4 separate regions of the Homo sapiens genome follow, and all the other regions are reported to be linked to region 4. Evidence: microRNA targets listed by miRTarBase, many of them from high-throughput screens and not tested one by one. Region 4 holds a microRNA gene; each other region holds the end of a gene's coding sequence.

What was found. The annotated mature microRNA hsa-miR-4464 reads AAGGUUUGGAUAGAUGCAAUA and lies in region 4 at 945-965, opposite strand. An mRNA with a match to its seed (bases 2 to 7 or 8) in the 3' UTR can be bound and repressed. Matches are read on the target gene's strand: a 7mer-m8 pairs with bases 2 to 8, a 7mer-A1 pairs with bases 2 to 7 and ends in A, and an 8mer does both.
Region 1: the mRNA of VWC2L is a reported target of hsa-miR-4464. The part of its 3' UTR that is shown has no 7-base or 8-base seed match.
Region 2: miRTarBase lists KANSL1L as a target of hsa-miR-4464. Seed matches in the 3' UTR shown: 7mer-m8 at 2,163-2,169.
Region 3: the mRNA of YWHAE is a reported target of hsa-miR-4464. Seed matches in the 3' UTR shown: 8mer at 1,227-1,234.

The regions. Positions count from the first base shown.
Region 1 is chr2:214,575,595-214,578,594 of GRCh38, forward strand. It overlaps VWC2L (von Willebrand factor C domain containing 2 like), which reads left to right. Exons shown (of 4, transcript NM_001080500.4): 4 at 78-3,000. The coding sequence ends at 226. Among named protein-coding and RNA genes, the nearest start is that of VWC2L-IT1, 67 kb to the left of the region's middle.
Region 2 is chr2:210,020,434-210,023,433 of GRCh38, forward strand. KANSL1L (KAT8 regulatory NSL complex subunit 1 like) reads right to left here. Exons shown (of 15, transcript NM_152519.4): 15 at 988-2,746. The coding sequence ends at 2,516. RPE (ribulose-5-phosphate-3-epimerase) reads left to right here. Exons shown (of 6, transcript NM_199229.3): 6 at 1-1,827. Among named protein-coding and RNA genes, the nearest start is that of KANSL1L-AS1, 8.0 kb to the right of the region's middle.
Region 3 is chr17:1,342,789-1,345,788 of GRCh38, reverse strand. It overlaps YWHAE (tyrosine 3-monooxygenase/tryptophan 5-monooxygenase activation protein epsilon), which reads left to right. Exons shown (of 6, transcript NM_006761.5): 6 at 290-1,514. The coding sequence ends at 342. Among named protein-coding and RNA genes, the nearest start is that of YWHAE, 56 kb to the left of the region's middle.
Region 4 is chr6:90,310,566-90,313,717 of GRCh38, reverse strand. MIR4464 (microRNA 4464) reads right to left here and starts at 976; the gene lies at 885-976. The region is part of intron 1 of LOC105377891 (a long non-coding RNA gene); the gene reads right to left.

The sequences.
Region 1 (3,000 bases), not on the chromosome of region 4:
GGGCTTGGGTTTGGATGGTGGGGAGAAAGGGAGCCTCTCAGATTTAATCAACTAATCAATGTATCTGTGTGTTTCAGGTCCAAACTGCTTTGCAGGAACGACGATAATTCCAGCTGGCATTGAAGTGAAAGTGGACGAATGTAACATCTGTCATTGTCACAACGGGGACTGGTGGAAGCCTGCTCAGTGTTCGAAACGTGAATGCCAAGGCAAGCAGACTGTGTAGGACAAACTTCCACCCAATGATGAGTTCTTAGGAAAGGATGCTATGGCTTCAACACTGCACATGTTTAACACAAAACAAAACAAACAAACTCCTGCCAGCTACAACAGGGTCACCAGCAAAACTTTCTAGGGTTGACAAAAGTGAATATTTTCCTAAGAGGAAATTTCTTTCTCTCTTGCTATATAAAATATATATAGTATATAGCTATCTAAATCGCTTTTGTATTTACCAATGCTTGATGGTGACTTGACGACTGGATTGCTGGAACAAAAAGAAAGAAATAGCCTTGCACAGGCTCCTTCCCTGGTAATGCCTCTGACCTACCAGCTCACTGTCCCCTGGTTTACTTCATTTTTACTCTTCTGTACATTGTACATGGCATTGTTCTCCTGTAATATTTGTTTTTTCACTTTTAGAGTCTAAGGGGCTAAATTTGACTGCACAGTAAAGTTTTGAGTTGTGTAAAAAAAAAAGTTTGGTAAAGGAATGTCAGGGGAAATATCTTTCCCGAGCTGGGAAACACAAGAGCATCCAGTCAATTGCTCCCCTAGGGTGAATCATGCCCTGTAGACTAAGGAAAGAGGGGTGGGCACATAGACGGGCCTATTGCTGGACAGGGTTGGGAACAAGTACTTTGTCCATTACGTGGGGGCTCACAATTTAATTCTTACAAACCACACATTTCATATGGAAAACCTCGAAACTGCCAATCAAAATCTATTACGTAAAGAACACCATAAGCTCAACTAAAGAATCCAAAGAGAGACAGATCTTTAAAATTGTAGCATTAATCATCAGACTTTTTCATGATGTGAAATTTGAGTTTGGTTTGTAGCTAAACACACTCTAAACTCACTGTCATCAGGCAATATAAATACCAGAACCAGGGTGAGAAAACCCACTGTGAATCCAAATCCTTATGAACATCTCTGGCTTTTGAGTTCAGATTTGGCTAAAAGTCAGTAGTACACACTGGCAGTTTTTGTGGTTCGGGACTGTGTTTGCCATGTTGTAGTAACAACCACTCAGCCCTATGTCTGAAACACAGATTCAGGACACCCTTTCCACCTCAAGTGCTGATTTAAATTAAAGATTAGGGTAGAGTGAGTCTTGCACAATACAATTCCATTTGTTGAACATTTTTTAAAATGTATATATTAGATACTGAAAAATTAAAGTGAACCTTTGAAGAGTCTCTAGGTTGCCCTGGTAATGCTGCTAGTATAGTAACAGAAAAAACAAAACACACAGGGTATCTGATGCCACCTCGATTCAAGTGCAAAATTAACAATTCTGAAACCACATGGCATAGTTAGTCGCTTATTCCATGCTCCTGCCCTAAAAACCCTGGCACAGATCTGATAGGGTCCTTGAAGAGACTTTACAGTTGTCTTTATTATCAATGTTCTTTCTTTTTCTGCTCCCCCAACCTGGGCTTTGCCATAGCTCCTGTGGAGAGCCATATTCTAGAGCAAGGTGTCTCAATCTTAGTAGGATTGACATTTGGGGCCAGATCATTATTCGTTGGTGGGGGCTGTCCTGTGTGCTTTTAGGATGTTTAGCACCATCACTGGCCTCTATCCACTAGCAACATCCCAGCAACTGGTGACAACCAAATTTCTCCAGACATTGCCTAATGTCCCTAAGGAGTGGGAGTGAGGGGCCTAATTTCACCTCGTTGAGAACCAGTGGTCTAGAATAATCAGTATAGAGTGGTTTCTGGCAGGGGACACAGTAGGCAAGCTCTAGCAGCACCTGTGGCTTTTGTGAGCTTCTGATCCCTATGGGACATACACAGTCAGCATTTCCAAGGGGTCAGTCTTCTCCATAGAGAGTGAGGCTTCTAATGCTATAGGCCCACCCTCAGGAAACATATTTTTTTGAGTCTTGTCAACTGGTTTTTCATTTAAAATTGTCAGCCTCTCCTCCCTGGAAGCATCTGCTGTCATCAAGAAAGAGTTGTCATTTCCAAAATTAACGTGCTGACGAGTCAGACCTGACATTCTTATGCACACTGTGCTTGCGTTATGATACAAATAGCCATGCCGGCACCATCCCGAGGAAGAGCATCAAGCCACCTTCCCTTAGAACACCAATTTGCAGCAAGGTTGGTGCCTTTCATTTGCCACCATGGATACATCATATAGACAGTCATGAATCATTCATGAGCAATGCTGCATGATTTATGTCTGCACTCAAAAGTAAAGGAATTCCACACTTTAGCTTATGTCTAGACAGAGATGTATTATAGAGCTTTCTTTGCCCCGAGGTTGCCTGTTGCCAACTTCAAAAATCCACACTCTTGGAAAGAAATAATAATAATAAATGACAGGAATAAGGTTTGAAACTCAGAAAATATCATTAATAGAGCCATGCAGCATAGTACCTTATCTATTATTAAGGAGTTACTATGTCCTTTTTTAGAAAACAGAAAGAGAGTACAACTGGGAAGCTGAAGTGCAGAAATTTTGCATCAAAGCATTGGCACAGCGAGAGTCACAGCAAGAATTTACTAGAATTGAATGGGACATCCATTAAGGATCTCTCTTCAGAGAGTTTGCAGAAAGCAGGCTGTTCTGTGGCCTCTGATAACCAGCTAGAGAGAGGGATTTTTATGGTTGGTTTTGTTGTTGTTGGATTTTCTTTTTCTCAAAGTTTCACTGCAGGCTGTTTCCTTTAAGATTTTGTAGCACTGACATTTTTCCCCCTTTAGGGAGAGATGAACCTATACTGTGACAATTTCTCATAAACTGATAAACATTTTACAACTTCCT
Region 2 (3,000 bases), not on the chromosome of region 4:
AATGCTGTTGTGTTAGCTCTGAGTAGAAAGGAAAAAGTAAAACCTCTGTTTGGAGGTAATATTGGGTTGAATTCTGACTGCCCCTTTCTAGCTGGACCTTTAACAAATCACCCAATCTTTTTTGTGTTTCTCTAAAGTCATTTATACATTAAATGTAATTATAGCAACTGTGGGGTTCTGTTGAGAATTAAGAGCTAACACTATATATGTAAAGTTTCCAGTACTAGTCCCAGAATTTAGAATATGCTCAACACAAAGTAAACAGCATTATATAAGTTTATATTTTTGTGAGTTATAAAGTACTTTGATATATTCTCATTAAATCTGTAAATCACCTCTATAAGTAAGTGGTAATAATAAAGCAGATATTTTTGTCCCCATTTAAAAAATGAAGAAATTAATGCTTAATAGGGTGGTACCCTGGAAAGGATCTGGGAAGTGGTAGAATTTCTGGTCTGTACTTTTACAAATGGAGCCCTTGGGAGGTGGGTTAGGTAAAAGAAGCTTTTTACTTAACGTTGTCTTATTTCCAGTCTAATTTTACGCTGTAGCAGAACCAGATGGCTGAGAAAATTCTGGAACTATGGATCTTGACCCCAAGGATATATTATTTTATTCCAAGAAAGATCAGGTAGGCGAAAAGATGACAGGATACAGAGTCAATCCATAAACTAAATATTTATAACTGTTCTGAATTATACAGAGTCTAAAAATATGTGTCAGCTACTTCATTCCTGTAAATACTCTTGCTGTGTTATAAATATGGCAAGAAATAAACATGACCAATATCAATAGACTTCTTGAGGCTACTATAAGTTTTGAGAAATAAGGTTCAAAAAATAAGAATGCTAACACTTAAGCACAGACTAGAGCTTGCTTGGGTTTCTTCCTGCATTACAAGGTAAAAATTTGTTAATGTTTGTTTTTATTCAGCTTGGGAAAGCTTTGTGCCATGAATACGTCGCATTTAATAACAAGCAACACACGGCATATAGAAATAACTTTAATTAAAAAACTTACATAGAAGATTATAATATCAGACGTGACAAAGATTTGAGTTTATTTGCCTGGACAACTTGGGTTTGTCTGGCTTTTGTTTTCTTTTTCTTTAAAAATAAATGTACAGTAAAACTACAAGCAAAAGTTTGTCAGTATTGAATTGAATTTTTTACCCCTTAAAAGGACTAGTATAATTTCCAATCTCTAACAAAAACTTAGTGTCAAATCTCACAGATAAGGCCAAATGGCCAATATTTTCAGTTATGTGGGTAGTACAACTTGAGTAACCTTTTTTACATGACAAAAAGTGAGTTATATAAATTGTCCTCAACTTTCACATAGGAAAAAAATGGTTTAATAGCTTCAAAAGGAATTTTCTTTCATGTATACTCTTCAGTATCCAATATTGAAGCTTTGTTCTTTGAAAAATTTTAATTTCCAATCTAGGATGCAAGCAAGAATATATGTTTATTTGAATAGAGTAAGCTATGGCAAAGAATGACCAAATTAGCTAGAAATAGAAATCAGCCAGAATTAACTAATTTCTTGCTAATCTAGAAATACAATCATCTTTTTTTTTTTTTTCAAATTTTATACTGATAGGGCTTTACTGTTTGTGGCTCATTTTAAAACTGGTGTCTTCTCTTCATGAGACACATTAATTGGTAAAACTCAAATTGAGTTTTCAAAGATGTGATAGTATTAAAGTGCACCAATATTTGACTCAAATTTGCTTGCTTTATTTTGTTAGGAGTAAACAGAAAGTAGCCTGTGTTTAGTCCCAAAGATAGCAGTGATTTTGAATAAAGGAGTTTTGTGTTGCCTGGATATATGAATTTCTGTAAATAACTTCTGTTGGTTAAACATGTTAAAACAACAACAACAACAACAAAAAACTTCTGTCTCTATATTCAGGACGTTCAGATGTCTTTTATTAGTGGAAACCTGTGTTTTATCTATTCTGCAGCTTACATTTCATAGGGTAGTTCATACATGCATTTCCAAGGGGAGTGGGTCATTGCCAGTGTTTTAAAAACTACATAGGGGTGTGTGTGTGTGTGTATGTTTATTTTATACACACATATTTGTATATTCTAATATATTACTAAGGCAATTTTAATGAATTACCATGTATATAAAAAAATAGCTGTCACTTGGCACACAGGTTTGTATGTATGTGTATATATATATGTATGTATGTATGGTGTGGGTACATAGTCTTAAAAATTACCCAGTAATGTGATTTGACATCAAGTTGCAGCAATTAATATCTTGGTGTTTGTAAGTAAGTTGCATGATAAACACAAATGACTACCACTTGTCTGTAGATGAAAATCTGGTTACCCTTATGGTTCCAGAAGGAAAAACAGACTTATCTTGCCTGTTTCATAAACAGCATAAAAGATTAATACATGCAGAACATGCTCTTATTCTGGAGGGGATGGGGGATCCAGAACAGGGCTTTATTTCCTCCCATCTTTCCTACATTTACATAGTTTTCTTAACCTGTTCCCTGTCACCTATTTTTTTTAACATTAGTAAGTCCTAGACCAAAGGTTTTGTATTCTTCCATTCCATCTGACTGCTTTTTTGGATGGTGGCCATTCTCTGGTACACTGGTACCGAAGATTTCACCATGGAAAGCTGTGCTTGACCTTTCAACCTGATCCTTTTTTTCATCTTGACATAATAAGGCTGCCATGTCTTCACCCTTCAGTGGAAAAGCCCGTCGTTCCCACCACAAAGACTGAAAGGGGAAAAATTTTCAGTTAAGTTTCAACTAACTTGTTTTGTTTAAATTCATCTAACAAGTAATCTGTACATGTCTATATTGTAATAATTGTTCTGTTCTTTAGCACATAAATGTACAATTTTTCATTTCAACTTAAATAGCAACTCAAAATGGAATATATTGAGAATTGTTGAGTGACTTTTGGGATTTATTTCTTTACTTTGCCTCTGCCAAGAAGAGGAAATGCTGCCATAGGCAGTGGTCTTCAT
Region 3 (3,000 bases), not on the chromosome of region 4:
GATGGTTTCCTTGGCTGTCTACGTCAAGAGCTTATTTAGCGTAAAAACATTGAGTTGTACTGCGCATCAGTTTTTTTCATTCTGTTGACCAATAAATACTTTCAGGACCATAATCCCTTCTTGGCTTAGGCATCTCAGGTGTCAAGGATGATAGAAGTCCTTTGCCTGCGTTTAATACCAATTGTAGCAAGTAGAAGAGTCTTTATGCTTGGAATGACACCTTTGTTTGTGGCTGCCATAGCCTAATGTAGTCAATACGAAATAATTGACTTTTTTTCTTTTTTAACAGGTGAAGAGCAGAATAAAGAAGCGCTGCAGGACGTGGAAGACGAAAATCAGTGAGACATAAGCCAACAAGAGAAACCATCTCTGACCACCCCCTCCTCCCCATCCCACCCTTTGGAAACTCCCCATTGTCACTGAGAACCACCAAATCTGACTTTTACATTTGGTCTCAGAATTTAGGTTCCTGCCCTGTTGGTTTTTTTTTTTTTTTTTTAAACAGTTTTCAAAAGTTCTTAAAGGCAAGAGTGAATTTCTGTGGATTTTACTGGTCCCAGCTTTTAGGTTCTTTAAGACACTAACAGGACTACATAGAGGCTTTTTCAGCATTACTGTGTCGTCTCCGTGCCAGATGTGGCAAGATCACCATTAGCAAATGGAAATTACATTTGAAAGCCATTAGACTTATAGGTGATGCAAGCATCTAAGAGAGAGGTTAATCACACTATAGAGGCATAAGTGGTATCAGTTTTCATTTTTCTAATTGTTTAAACTGTGTTTTATACCAGTGTTTGCAAGTAATTGGGTGTTAGCTTGAGATGGTTAAAGGTGGTTTGGGGAGGGACTTCGTTGTAATGGTTTTGCTGTAAAAAATGTTTCCAACTCCGCTGAAATGTTGCTGAAAAGCATGGTGCTGGTAACAGTTCAACAATCCGTGGCTGCTCATTCTTGCCTACTTTACTCTCCCACTGAAGCAGGTTAGCGTTGAAGGTGGTATGGAAAAGCCTGCATGCCTGTTCAATTCTTTTGTTTCTTCTCCTTCCCCCTCCCCCTACCTCCTTCCCCTCACTCCTCCCCTCCTTCGCTCGCTCAACCTCTTTTGTTCAGTATGTGTAACTTGAAGCTAATTTGTACTACTGGATATCTGACTGGAGCCACAGATACAGAATCTGTATTGTTCTTACTGAAACACAGCATGGAATTAACATTAAACTTAAATAAAACAAACCTAAATTAAAAATGCCAAATATCGCGCCTCCATCCTTTATACTTCTAAAATAAAATCTCTAGTCCAAACACACTGACAGTATTATGTTTGCCTGAATGTGAAACATTCCTCCTTTTTTCTTCCATAAATAATTTGTTTGCTTCCCAAAGATGTATGTTTTGGAAAAAAATTGCCTGTAGTCTGGTTGTGAAGAACACTGAGTCAGTTGATGGTGTGTCTTGTCCTCCAGACCAGGCAGCAACATGGTATTTATTTTAATCATTAAAGTACAACATGAGTAGTACAAGGTGTAATTATGGATCATTTTCTAGCATAGTATTTCATACAACCAAATAAGGCTGAATGTCTTATAATAATTCTTAGAGGTAAAAACTGTGTGCCCTCTTCCTCCAGAGGCTAGTGGCAGTAGTGGAGAATTACTCAATCCTTTCTTAGTAATCCATACACACATTATAGACAGCAGGATAGCAGTCTCCCTTTCCAGAAACACTGTATAAGAAGCTTCTTTCCATAAACAGTTTATACATCAATGTGTATAGATACCTAGTTACTGTAGATCTTTTTATGTTAGGCATTCAGATGTGTCTCATTCTGACTGCGTAACATTGATGTACACCTGATTTTGTTAAGACCAGTTTGCTCCTTTTGGGCAGGTGCTGCAGGAAATACCCTTGGAACAGTTTTTGCTTAAATATTTGTATGTATCTGGAAGGTACATTTCTAGATTCCCTGTGTCAGTAAACATTTTTCAGTTGATAAATCCTTCCTCGTCACACTTGTCTTCTAAAATTGGATGTTGAGACTGCAAGTTTACTCTCGGTTTAAAGTGTTAGTAGCAGAGATTTAGGAAATGAACAGATCAGCGATATCCTAGTAGCGTTTAGTGAGTGCTGGCAATGAGAATAAACATGTTTTTGTGAGTTGCTTTTCCGAGAGATAGGGAGACCATTGAATATAATTATATGCTGCTGTTTGGAGCAACCTCCAAGAAGCTTTCAAGTTGATTTGCTCTGTTTCCAGCACACCTGCTACACTTAAAGGTCAAAATCCAAGGAATTCGTCAAGTCTGTTGCAGAGTTTAAAGAAACCACTCGGCTGGGTGCGGTGGCTCACACCTGTAATCCCTGCAATTTGAGAGGCCGAGGCGGGCGGATCACGAGGTCAGGAGATTGAGACCATCCTGGCTAACACGGTGAAACTCCGTCTCTACTAAAAGTACAAAAAATTAGCCAGGCATGGTGGCGCACGCCTGTACTCCCAGCTACTCGGGAGGCTGAGGCAGGAGAATCGCTTGAACCCGGGAGGCAGAGGTTGCAGTGAGCCGAGATCACGCTACTGCACTCCAGCCTGGGCGACAGAGTGAGACTGTCTCAAAAAAAAAAAAAAGGAAAGATCCTTATCAAAAATTGAAAGGCCGGGTGCGGTGGCTCACGCCTGTAATCCCAGCACTTTCGGAGGCCGTGGTGGGTGGATCACGAGGTCAGCAGTTAAGAGACCAGCCTGGACAACATGGGGAAACCCTGTCTCTACTAAAAATACAAAAAAATTAGCCAGGCGTGGTGGCGGGCGACCTTGCTGGGTGTAATTAACATCCAGTGACTTGGGAGGCCTGAGGCAGGACAATCGCTGGAAACTGGAAGGCGGAGCTTGCAGTGAGCCAAGATCGCGCCACTGCACTCTAATCTGGGCAATAAGAGCAGAACTCCGTCTCAAAAAAAAAAAAAAAAAAAAAAAATTGAAAGGGAGCCAGGGAAGCTGCAGAAAGGTGC
Region 4 (3,152 bases):
TGCTTTTGTCTGCCCAACACCCCTCTGTCCCTTAAGATGGAAATGTGCCAGTCATAGTTTCTGTCTCTCTTTCCTTAATGGCAGTTCCATGGCATAAGCATGTGACCCAGCAGGGCCACACAAAGGCCCGCCAGAGGTGTGCATATGGACCCTGGGAGAGGAAGTGTTGTTGCCCCTCCCCAGAGATGTGGAGCATAAGGACCTGCAGTAAGGAGCCTGGAGCTGCTGGTGACCACCTTGCCCTTCACATGGCGAGTACCAGCTTGAGTATGAGACCAGCAAAGAGGAAAATGAAGCTGAGAGAGTGTCAGGGACCCCAGATTTGGCAGTCACACTAGGCAAATAGTGACTATAAGAATGGTGGCTTGGAGGGAAATGTGAAACATTCCAGCCCACTGTCCTCATCACAAGGAGTCAATGTTTCATTTCCCCTAAACCTGCTCCTTGCCTTTGTGGTGCTCCTTGTCCACTGCTATCCACCCCAGCCCTGGGCCTCCACTCAAGCCAGGGTAGGGGCCACTGAGGTTTCCTTACCTCCCACCTCACAGGCAGGCATCCATGTAGGCAGCAGTCCTGGTTTCTCTCTGGCCATTCCATGCATCCCTACCACACTAGGGCTTTGAGAAGCATGCATGACTACTCCACTACCTCTGCCCCCTCAATCACCAAACTGCGCCCACCCTGGGTTCCCAGTGGATTACTTCAATCCTAAACAGAACTAATTATCTAAACATTTTGAGAATTGTTCAAGACAAAATATGGCACCAGTATACCACAGAGTTGGATACAAAACATAACCTTATTTATTGGAGATCAGAAGCAGGAGCATTGAAACACACACACACATACTCCTACTACACACACATACACGCAGCACAAAACTCTGAATTAGTAAGGTTTGGATACATGCAATAAAGTATGTCCTTTCAGCTGTGGACATACTTTATTGCATCTATCCAAACCTTACTAAGGTTCCTGATTTTTAATAAACTTATAATAGATTGAAGCAATTTTTATTTGCTGTTCCTGATTTTTAATAAACTTATAAAATAATAGATTGAAGCAATTTTTATTTGCATTCGATTCCACATTTGGGGCCAGATTCTCTTTGTGCCTTCTTCTTTGAGTGAACATCGAATGTCTTTGGATGAGCACTGGGCTCTGTCAGGCCATTACAGTTACTGTTTTAGAATACTAAATGTGACACTAGTGACCTAGTGGCATTAATGCACCTTTCAAAAGTGCCCAGTTTTCTCCTTGGAAGTAATTTCAGCAGTGATAGGCTACAACTGAGTAATTTCTGATAAGCAATTAGCACATATCAAATCAATGCACATTACTCAAGGTTTTATACTGCTAGTGGAGATATAGCAGGGGTTACCCATTAAAAAGCATCTGTGAAAAACTTCTGCTGTTATTATGGAAGCAGTGGGCAATATTCAAATCGAGGCAACTCAACCATTAAATAAATGTATTTTTAATCATGAAATGTCACTGTTCTACAGACCTGTTTTTCCTATTAACATGTGGGAGATAATGTTAATGAGATTTAGTTAGTGTTTTAAAAGCAATTGAAGTCTTATTATGAAAGGCAGCAGAAAAGGACACAGCAATATTCTTCTAAGCTGTGAATCACTCCATATCTGTGTGAAATCGAATAGTGTAGAAATCTACATGGGAATCATCTAAGCAACAAAAACATAGAAGACTCCCAAACACTCCTACTCTATATCATTTTTCATACCTAAAATGAAATAAGAAAGCACACTACGGTTGGAAATTTTAATGGGGGGAAGGCCCCCATGTTGATATTTCAGAAAACAGTTCATTCTTGAAGTATGAATGTATTTGAGGTATCAGTCATTGTGTTTACCCATCAATAGTGACTCTAAAGAAAGAGTATCCTATGCACAGCAGATGCTGAACGTGAAGGCCTGGGTGACCATGATTTGTTCCTTGGGACACCCCTCCCCTCTCGCCACCCACCTCAAGCTGGTAAATTGATTGGACCAGGGTTGGGCCAAGGCAGCCAATCCATGCCCGGCCTGTGTTAAATCATAAGTGGAGCCAATCAGATTTTTCCTCACATGCATTTGAACTAAGATCTAATAAATAAGAAAATAGGAGTTGAAGCTAAAAGGACAGATATAGAATGGTCATGAAGAGTCATATCTTTAAAAAGGGACACATTTGTTTTTAAAAGTTTTAGAAAACAGAAATTATGAACATAAAGGGATATCTTGGCTGGACCCCAAGCCAATGCTCGAATTGGCTTGTCTGTGAGGTGGAAGAAGCCCTAGAGATCCTCTGTACATTCACAGAACATGCAAGGGCCATGCAATAAGAATCCAGCCACATTCCTCAGTTTTCCTGGGTTTGCACACACCAGCATGTCTGTTTGACAGGCCAGAGAAGGAGAGAAGGAAAGTGACACGGGCTAAATTGCAGGGAGCAACTAACCCCTGGAAGGAAAACCCCCAAAACAATGAAGAAATCCAGTAGGGTGGACTAGAAGAAGGGCTTGGGTGTGGGATGAGAAGAGTGGCTTTGAATACAGTCTGAAGCGCCATCTGAAATCCAGACTTTCCTTCACAATCTCCACTCCCAGGGAGGAGTGGTGTCATCCAACCAAAAGAACTCACACACACATACACACAGCACACCACCCCACAAAACTCCAAATTAGTAAGGTTTGGATAGACACAATAGAGTGTGCCTCTATTGTGCTTCCCATGCTTCCCATGGGAATCATCGTCCCCCACATCACCTAGACCAGAGGAGGCTAGCAGAAGCAGCCATTTCCTTAGGAGGGAGATGCCCGCAAGTGAGCGAACAGAGGTCCTGGGGTGTATTAGAGGTCAGGGTTGGCCAGCACCTCTGTGGAGCAGCATGGGCCGTGCTATCAAGCAACATGAACGAGGGCTGGAGTGGCAGCCAGAACAGCCATGGCAGAGCCACAGAAGCTAACAGAGCCATCTCCCCAATCCCCCACTGAGTCCAGGCAGAGCTGACGTTCTGCCACTTGGCAAGTGGAGACTAGTAATCCAATGGATGCATGGACAAATTACTCCAGGAGACTTACCCAGATGCTCAGTGGATGGGGCTGAGATTCACATCATGACTTCCCAAGTAAACAGAGAAAGCTGGTCAGA